Homo sapiens: one gene and its partner. The protein of the gene in region 2 interacts with the protein of the main gene of each other region in a pairwise test. Each region holds a gene or a part of one and is shown on either strand. Other genes may lie near its edges.

Region 1 (4,947 bases), on a different chromosome or scaffold from region 2:
AGCATAGGATACTGGTTAATTCATGCTTCATTTGTAAATAAATTAATCTGGAAAAACTGTAGGCCAGGTGTGGTGGTGCACACCTGTAATCCCAGCACTTTGGGAGGCTGAGGTGGGTGGATCACCTGAGGTCAGGAGTTCGCGACCAGCCTAACATGATGAAACCCCATCTCTACTAAATACAAAAAAATTAGCAGGGCGTGGTGGTGCAAGCCTGTAATCTGAGCTACTTGGGAGGCCAAGACAGGAGAATCGCTTGTACCTGGGAGGTGGAGGTTGCAGTGAGCTGAGATCGCGCCATTGCACTCTAGCCTGGGCAACAAAAGCGAAACTCCATCTCAAAATGAAAAAGAAAAACTGTAATGGTGAATCAACGACTAAAACCATTCCTGAACAACTTTCTGAACATCTCTAAGAAGATTTTATGGAGTTGCCTCTCTCCATGGTTTAGAAATATTTATTATTATTTTTTTAAGTTTAGTTATTTTTAGAGGCGAGGTCTTGCCATCACCCAGGCTGGAACTCCTGGACTCCAAAGACCCTCCACTTCAGTCTCCTGAGTAGCTGAGACTATATAGGTGCATGCCACCATGCCAGGCAATATTCTTAAATATTCTAGTATGTTTACGTTATGAATACCTTAGAAGAGTCCCCTACCGAAAAGACACAATATTCACAATGACTAAAATACTGTATTTTGTGTATTCTCCCAAGCGCATTCTAACTTGTCATCCAATAATATAAAAACATATTTAACTTCAATAGTTGAAACTTATACATTTCGATGATGTAACACTTTGCTTCCTTCTAAGAAACCTTGTCTTCATCATTCCCAGTCCTCAGGAAACCCCAGGCAGGAGTTTCCAACAAGATCTAACTCCAGACACGTTGTAGTCACATTTCCAAAAACTAAAGACAAAGAGAAAATCTTGAAAGCAGCCAGAGAAAAATGACATATTACTCATAGAGAACAATTTGAATGACTGTAGGCTTCCCAACAGAAATGAAGGCCAGTAAAAAGTAGAACAACACTTTCAAAATGCTGAAAGAACAGACCTATCAACCCAAAATTCTATATCCAGCAAAAATATGTTTCATATATGAAGGTGAAATAAAAGTCATTCTCAGCTGAAGAGAAAGAAGAACTTATTTCCAGTAGACTTATTATAAAGAATACTCTTCAGTTAGAAGCAAAGTGTTATCAGAAGGAAACTTAGAACATCAGGAACAAAGGAAGACCAACTGAAATTGTAAATATCTGGGTAATTATTTTCCTCTTAGTTCTTTTAAATGTCTAATGTTTAAAAACAAGAATTATAACATTTATCTAATGAGATTTTTAATTTATGCAGGCAAATATATAACTACAAGAAAAAGGGAGGAGGCTAAAAAGGCCTATACATTGATCAGATTTCTACATTTCACTTGAAGTTGTAAAAATATCAATTTTAAGTAGACTTAAAAATTTACATATATTGTAATTCCTAATAAATCCCTAAAATAACTGCACAGAGATAATAGTCAAAACTACAATAGATTAATTGAAATGAATTAAAAAGTGTTCAATAACCCAAAAGACAGAGAAAAGGCAAAACAAAGGAATATCAAAGGAACAAAAAGAAAACAAATGATAAGATGGCAGAACTAAATCCAAACATGTTAATAATTTCACTAAATATAAATGTCCTCGACATTTATATTTAGATAAGATTAAGACAGATGATCAGAATTTTAAAAGAGGACCCAACTATGCATTGTTTATATAAAATTCACTTTAAATATGATATGGGTAGGTTAAAAGTAAAAGGACAGGCCGGGCATAGTGGCTCACACCTGTAATCCCAGCACCTTAAGAGGCCAAAATCGGAGGATTGCTTGAGCCCAGGAATTCAAGACCAGCCTGGGCAACATGGCAAAACCCTGTCTCTACAAAAAATTTAAAAATTAGCTGGGTGTGGTGGCACATGCCTGTAGTCCCAGCTACTCGGAACGGTGAGGGCGCAGTCAACCCTGGCTGTGCCACTGCACTCCTGCCTGGGTGACAAAGTGTGACCCTGCCTCCAAAAAAAAAGTTAAAAGGATGGAAAAGAGGATATACTGTACAAATATTAGTCAAAAGAAAACCAGAGGGCTAATAAGAACATGAAAACATGCTCAACATAACTAGCCATCACTGAAATGCAATTCAAAACCACAATGAGATATACCTACTAGGATGGCTATAATAGAAAAGATAGTAAGTGTTGGCTAGGATATAAAGAATGTGAAATGGTATAGCCACTTTGGAAAAGTCTGACAGTTCTTCAAAAGGTTAAACATGTGATCCAACAATTCCACTCCTAGGTACATACCAGGAAAATGAAAGTATGTCAATGCAAAAAACTGTACATGAATGTTCACAGCAATATTATTCAACTGATAAATGAGTAAATATGATGTGTTCATACAGTGGAATATCTGGCAAAAAAAAAAAAGTAGGGGGGAATGATGCCCTGAAACAGGCTACAACATGGATGAAAACTGAAAAAATTATGCTCAGTGAAAGAAGTCAGTCACAAAGACAATGTATCACGCCATTTATATAGTGTCCAAAAGAGGCAAATCCACAGAGGCTGAAAGTAGATTAGTGGATGTCTAGGACTGAGGGATTAGGAAAAGGAAGGAGGAATGGGAAGTGACTGTTAATGAACATACGGTTTCTTTTTGCGCGGGAAAAATGTTCTAAAATCAATTTTGTTGATGGTTACACAACTCTGAATATACTGAAAACCCTAAAAGTGTACACTTTAAATAGGTGAATAGTATGGTATGTGAATTACATATCTCAATAAAGGTGTTATATTTAAGAAAAGAGCTAGAGTGGCTATATAATATCAGACAAGGTCAGGCGCAGTGGCCCACGCCCATATAATCCCAGCACTTTGGGAGGCCAAGGCTGGCAGATCATGAAGCCAGGGGTTCCAGAACAGCCTGGGAAACATGGCCAAACCCCACCTCTACTAAAAATACAAAAAATTAACCGGGCGTGGTGGTACACACCTGCAGTCGCAGCTAGCTGGGAGGTGGAGGTAGGAGGATCACCTAAGCCCAGGAGGTTGAGGCTGCAGTGAGCCACAATCACGCCACTAAACTTTAGCCTGGGCAACAAAGTGAGACTTGCCTCAAAAAATAAATAAATATCAGACAAAGTAAACTTCAGAGAAAAGAAAATTACCAGGGACAGAGGAACATTACATGATGATAAAATGCCCAATCACCAAGAAGACATAAGCATCCTAAATGTATATACAACTATAATTAAAGAGCTTCAAAATACAAATGCACTAACTCAAACAACTGAAGGGATATATAGGCATATCCACCCTTACTGCTGAAAAATTAAACATTCCTTTCTCAGTAACTGGCAGACTTTGTACACAAAAATCAGCAATATAGGCAAAATGAACAGCATCCACTAACTGGCTTGAATTGATATTTATGAAATGCTACAACCAACAACAGCAGAGTACACATTCTTTTTAAGTGCTCAAGATATTCATGAGGATAGATCACATCCTGGATCACAAAACAAACCTTAACAAATTTAAGAGAACTGTAATCATACAAATTATGCTTTTTTTTTTTTTTTTTTGAGACGGAGTTTCACTCTTGTTGCCCAGGCTGGAGTGCGATGGCACATTCTCGGCTCACTGCAACCTCTGCCTCCTGGGTTCAAGCGGTTCTCCTGCCTCAGCCTCCCGAGTGGCTGGGATTACAGGCTCATGCCACCATGTCCGGCTAATTTTTGTATTTTTAGTAGAGATGCGGTTTCACCACGTTGGCCAGGCTGGTCCTGAACGCCTGACCTCAGGTGATCTGCCCGCCTAGGCCTCCCAAAGTGCTGGTATTACAGGCGTGAGCCACCACGCCTAGCCAGTACAAATTATGCTCTCTGATTATAATGAAATTAAACTAAAGTAAGTAATTAAGAGATAACAAGAAAAATCTCCAAACATCTGGAAGTTAAACAATGTACTTCTATATAATAAGTCAAAAAGGAAGTTTCTGGAAATTAGAAGATACTTTGATCTAAATAAACATGAAAATACAAAATATCAAAAATTTTGGCATGTATGTAAAACTCTACTTTGAAGCAAATTTATAGCATTAAATGTTTATATTAGAAAATTAGAAAGATCTCAAATCAATTATGTAAGCCTCAACCTTTAGGAACCTGGAGAAGAAGAGCAAAATAAACCTAAAGTAAATAGAAAGAAATAATAAAGAGTAGAAATCAACGAAATTGAGAACAAGAAAGCAACAGAGAAAACCTAATGAAATAAAAAGCCAGTCCTTGGAAAAAAATAAAAATTGAAAAACCTCCTGAAAAATTAACCAAGAAAAAAAGTCAGCAGACATAAATTACTAATGGAAAGAAGGGATATCAGGAAAGATGAGACATCACTACAGACCTCTAATTCCTTAAAAGGATAAGTGAACACAATAATAAATTCCATACACATGAATTGGATAATTTAAATGAAATGGACTAATTCCTCAAAAAACACAAACTACATAAAGTCACACAAGATGAAACAGACAACTATGAATAATCCTATTATAATTATTTTAAGAAACTGAATTTGTAATTAGAAATCTTCTGCAAAAAATCTCCAGACCTGGATGGCTTCAAGGACAAATTCTATCACACATTTAAAGAAGAAATAACACCAATTATTATACAATCTCTTAAAAAAATAATAGAAAAGGAAATACTTGTAATTTTAATCTCATAAACTGATGTCAGTATTACTGATACCAAAACCAAAGAGAATACAAGAAAACCACAGACTAATATCCTTCATTAACATAAATAAAAAATCCTTAAGGAAATATTAGTAACTCAAATTCAGCAACTCATAATGAGAGTAATATACCCTGACCAATGGGAGTTTATCCCAGATTCAA
Region 2 (4,589 bases):
GCTGCCGCCCCGGGAATGTGGGGATTTTGCCCAACTCGTGAGAAAGGTACGCGCCCACTCTTGGCTCTTTGGGCCACAAAATCAAGCATCCCGAAGACACAGGTTTATCTCATCCACTTCTCGGAATGAAAACAAGTGTCCGGCTGACCCAGGGCCACCAGGATCCACGTGCCCCCGGAGACTGTGCCCACCGGCTCTTATGCGAAGGGTGACTTCGGGCTGGGGCTGGTGGATAGGTCAGTCAACCTCATCATCATTGGCCACTTGCCAACTTTTTACCAGTCAGCTCATGCCATGACCCCTTGCAGCTCTCGTAGAAAAACAGACGGTCCAGGAAGGAGTAAGCAGTTTAGATGAGGAGGGAAGAAACGACTGTGGGACTCGATTCTGGCCTCTTCTGGGGACCTGGGGCAGGGCGGCTGATGGATGAAAAGGAGCCCCTTGATCCTCTTGCCCTTGGAGTCACCCAGCATGGAAGAAGCTTGAGCTGGTTGTAGCTGCCAGAGTGCTCAGGCTCTGGCAAGGGCCTTGTGAATGACAAACAGAGGATAACGCACACGTGACATCTTGGACAACCTTGATTATCACTCAGCAAAGCCAGAGGGTGATGTCCAGTCCATGGGTGAATTGAGGCAGGCAAACTCAGGAGTGCAGATCCCACCCCAGTCCCAGCCCTTCCCTGCAGATCTACTCAAGGCTGGACTCACCACAGTCCTGACCTTTTTATGAAATTCATCAGTCCACTGGTCAGTGCCCAGGCAGCACGTGCAGCATAGACAATGCCTGTCATCGGAGGTGCTTGAGGCCCTGACCTGGTTTCTTCACATAGCACTGCCACAGGACCACACTGGCCACAGCTTGTTTGCCATAAGTTGTGGGCAGCAGTGGGGGTTGCTGAGTCCCCCCAAGAGGTCAGGGGCTTCAGAGGAGCCCAACTCCCGGGCCCAGCCCAGTGACACCAGCCAGGTGCCTGCAGGAGGGCTTAGCTCTCTAGCTACGCCTGCCTCAGCAGCCAGATGAGAGGTTACGCACATGAAGAGCATGCCTGCCGTGGGTCATTGTCACTCAGCAATTAGGCATCAGACACCCGAATCTCCCTTTCTTGCTCCATTTTCCTCTGCACCTGAGTAGAAACATGCTTCCCCTGCAAAATGTCTCCAGGGTGGTGTGTCCCAATTATGATCCAGACATTTCCGAGCGCCCTGGATTCTTGAGCCACCAGGTGAGCATTGTCCAAATAGGGCAGCTCAACCCCCCTGGGCCACACTGGTAGAGGTCTGCATGGATTTTCCTGGGGACTGTCCGGGGCAGCCCCGGCACCACCTGCTCCCAAAATGTTGCTCTTGCTTCTGCAAATGGGTCTCCCACACATGCGCTCTGATGCATTCCTCCTGTCCCTGCCCCGCTTCCCACAGTCCCATATACACATACCAAGCCTCCAGCCCCAGGCGCTCCTGGGGGCCCACGTAACCAAGGGTGGCAGCACTGCACACACCAGCTGCTGACAGTTCCTCAAACCCATGAGCCTTTGTGGCCAAAGCTCCACCCACTCCTTGGACCCTTCACCCCCTTCCATAGATGCCAATCTTGAACTTCCAAACTCCTGGACTTTCTTATGCTGGTCACGTGGCGTTCACCCTGCCCCTACCCCAAAATAAGCTGGACTTGCTCATGCATATCAGAAAATACAAAGGGGGGGCTCTACCAAATGATGGGCCCCCAAATCAGGGCAGCTGGAAAGGGAGCACTCAGGACCCTCCCCGACCAGCCCATCACCGCCCCTCGCCCACAGCCTCTGCAAGCGTGAGGAAAGAATCACCCTAGGGTCAACACCAGCCTCACTCAGACCCCCCTGCCAGTTGGCATTTTTGTAAATTTCATCTGCCTGAGGAATTTCTAGACATTAGAAAGAGGAAGGAAAGAAAGAAAAGAAAAGACAAAAACAAAAAAGGCTTCACCACAAAGCTCTGTTCTCACACATCCATTTCACAGATGAAGGGATGGAGGTCTAAAGGTTCACTTTGTGCTTTTCTTTTGGGTCTGAAAACTCAATGTCTGTGTCTTTTTGTGATGCTGAATATGAGAATATGAGTCACTCCTTAAGTGGTGGATGGCAATCTCCACCTCAGCCTGCAGACCTTTGTGGTGGGGGCTGTTCTACTCATTGTAGGATGTACCACCTTGTAGGACCTCTACCTGCTAGGTGTCGGCAGCACCTCCATCCTCAGTTGTGACAATCAGAAATGTCTCCGGAATTACCCAGTGTCCCCTGGCTAGGGGACATCCCCCACGGGGCACCGCCAGGGCAGATGTTGGTGCCATTCAATGGTGGCAGTGCCAGCCTGGGCAGTCGCAGACCCTCCAAAGTAGAGGTGTGCCTGACAGTTGGCTTTGGAGCTAGTCTGAAATTGATGGACTTGCTATAAGATATTAACAAGTGATTTAAAACTCTGTTCCAGATCCCTTCCCTGGGCATGTGCTTCTGTGAAGAAAATAAAGAGGAAGGAAAATGGGAGTTGGTGAACCCACCGGTGAAGACCCTGACCCACGGGGCGAACGCAGCATTTAACTGGAGGAACTGGATCTCAGGCAACTGAGAGCCACGGTGATGTTGTCATAACCTCAGAGTGGAGAGGCAGAAACCATGTGCAGAGGCTGGGAGATGCTGCTGTTTCCAGAGGCGTCTTAGTCTCACCCAATGTGATTTGTAGAAGCACGAGACGCACTTTTATATCCCGGAATATTTCCCTCCGGCTTTCGCCTTTGTAACTCCCATCTGTGGACCCATCGTCCACCAGCCCAGCTGCGGGGAGCACAGGGCAGGTGGCTGGGTGAGGATGCCGCCCTGCAGCATGTACACCGAGTGTCTGCAGCTGGGGACACAACTGCCCGGGACTCTAACTTCCAGGAATTAAAGACTCACCACACACGAAGGATCTAACCACTTCATTTTCCATGGTCTAATCATTAAATTCCCAATCGTTTTTTCTTTTTCTGGGTCCATCACTCTTTAGCCATATCCACATGGGCTAAAACAGGTGTAATAGTCAATAAAATGGTCCCAGAAAACCATCGACCAGGTCAAAACTGGGTTGCTGCTCCGTGCTGTCAACATTCATGTTACTATGTCTCTGTGGTTGCTGTAACCAATGACCACAAACCTGGGGGTCATGGAAAGAACACAAACTTTACACACACACACACACACACACACACACAGGCACATACACACATGCACATATGCATACAAAGACAGGCACACACGAGCATGCACACACACAAACACGTGCACATACACATGCGCACACACATGCACACGCACATGCACACACACGCAGGTACACAAGCATGCAAACACACATACACATACAAACGCGTGCATGCATACATGCACACATGAGCACACAAACACATGCACACACTTGCACACATGCACACAAAGGCATACACATGCAATGCACACACACAAACACACATGCACACACAGGCACACACACGCTCACATGCACACACACACACGCTGACTCTCCTACGGTTCTGGAGGTTGGCATTTTCTCAGCAGGCTATGTTTCTTCTGGAGCCTCCAGGGGAGGATCCTTGCCTTTTCTCACTTTTAGAGGCCACCTGCATCCTCCCTCCTCAAGTACAGCGGCGTAGCAGCCTCCAAGCTCTCTCAGTCTCTGCCTTCACAGCCACATCGCCTTCTGCTTCTGACTCTCCTGCCTCCCTCCTACAAGGGCCCTTGTGTTGACACTGGGCCCACCCAATAACCCAGGATCAATTCTCATCTCAAGAGCCTTAACCACACATGCAAAGTCCCTTTTGCCACATAAAGTTGCATATTCCCAGGTCCCGGGGATTAGGACATGAACATCTTTGGGGGTTATCCTGTAGCCTGCCATAACATACCCCAATCCTTCCAAGCACAGCGGAGCTGCCCGTACAGGGCCTCGGACATAGGGATTTGAGACACTCCCCTTGCAGGCCTTTTTTGGCTTCTCCTATTCTTGTTTCTGATCACGTAGAGGAGAGAAGAGGACTTTGCCAGTGGGAGAAGTAGGCTCCCCCGATTTAATGGGGCCCCAAAAGAAGGGCCACGAGCAAAGTGGAGTCTGTCCATGATGGTGATGCTGAGGAAGCTGGTCCAGCAGGGGATGGGGTCTCCCCAGTGGGGAGTCTCATGCCCCAGCCCACAGGTCACACCTGCTCCCACAGCCCACACATGTGGTGCCTCATGCTGCAGGCAGAGATCCCAGCACGGTGTAGTGACAGTCCATCGGTCTTTCATCTCTTCTAGCCCCCTGATCCAGTGCAGGTGTTATTTCATGATTGCAGTTTGGGGCTGTGGTGGTGGCTCTGTGAGTGCCTTTTATAGTGTGAATGCAGAGACAGGGCAGGAAGGACCCATGCTGCACCCTCAGCCTCCCCTGTGAGCACCCAGGCAAGTGGAGGGCAGAACACAAAGGGAGCTCTTGTAGAAATAAAGATGGTGAACACCCCGGGCTGTGACAAAAACGGCCCACATTGTGTAGAATGCACAGGAGGCCAGACCCAATAAAAGTTTCCTTGCTGTTTTAGTCAATCAAACA

Evidence for each region.
Region 1: the proteins of UBASH3A (region 2) and FGFR1OP2 interact in binary tests that used the Homo sapiens proteins (3 or more experiments, as listed by UniProt).

What each region holds. Positions count from the first base shown.
Region 1 is NC_000012.12:26,944,546-26,949,492, reverse strand, and holds part of FGFR1OP2 (FGFR1 oncogene partner 2), read right to left. Parts: intron 1-4,947. UniProt on the Homo sapiens protein: May be involved in wound healing pathway.
Region 2 is NC_000021.9:42,444,598-42,449,186, forward strand, and holds the end of UBASH3A (ubiquitin-associated and SH3 domain-containing protein A), read left to right. Parts: coding exon 1-46; coding exon of another isoform or gene 47-236; intron 237-2,459; coding exon 2,460-2,597; 3' UTR 2,598-3,087; downstream 3,088-4,589. UniProt on the Homo sapiens protein: Interferes with CBL-mediated down-regulation and degradation of receptor-type tyrosine kinases. Promotes accumulation of activated target receptors, such as T-cell receptors, EGFR and PDGFRB, on the cell surface.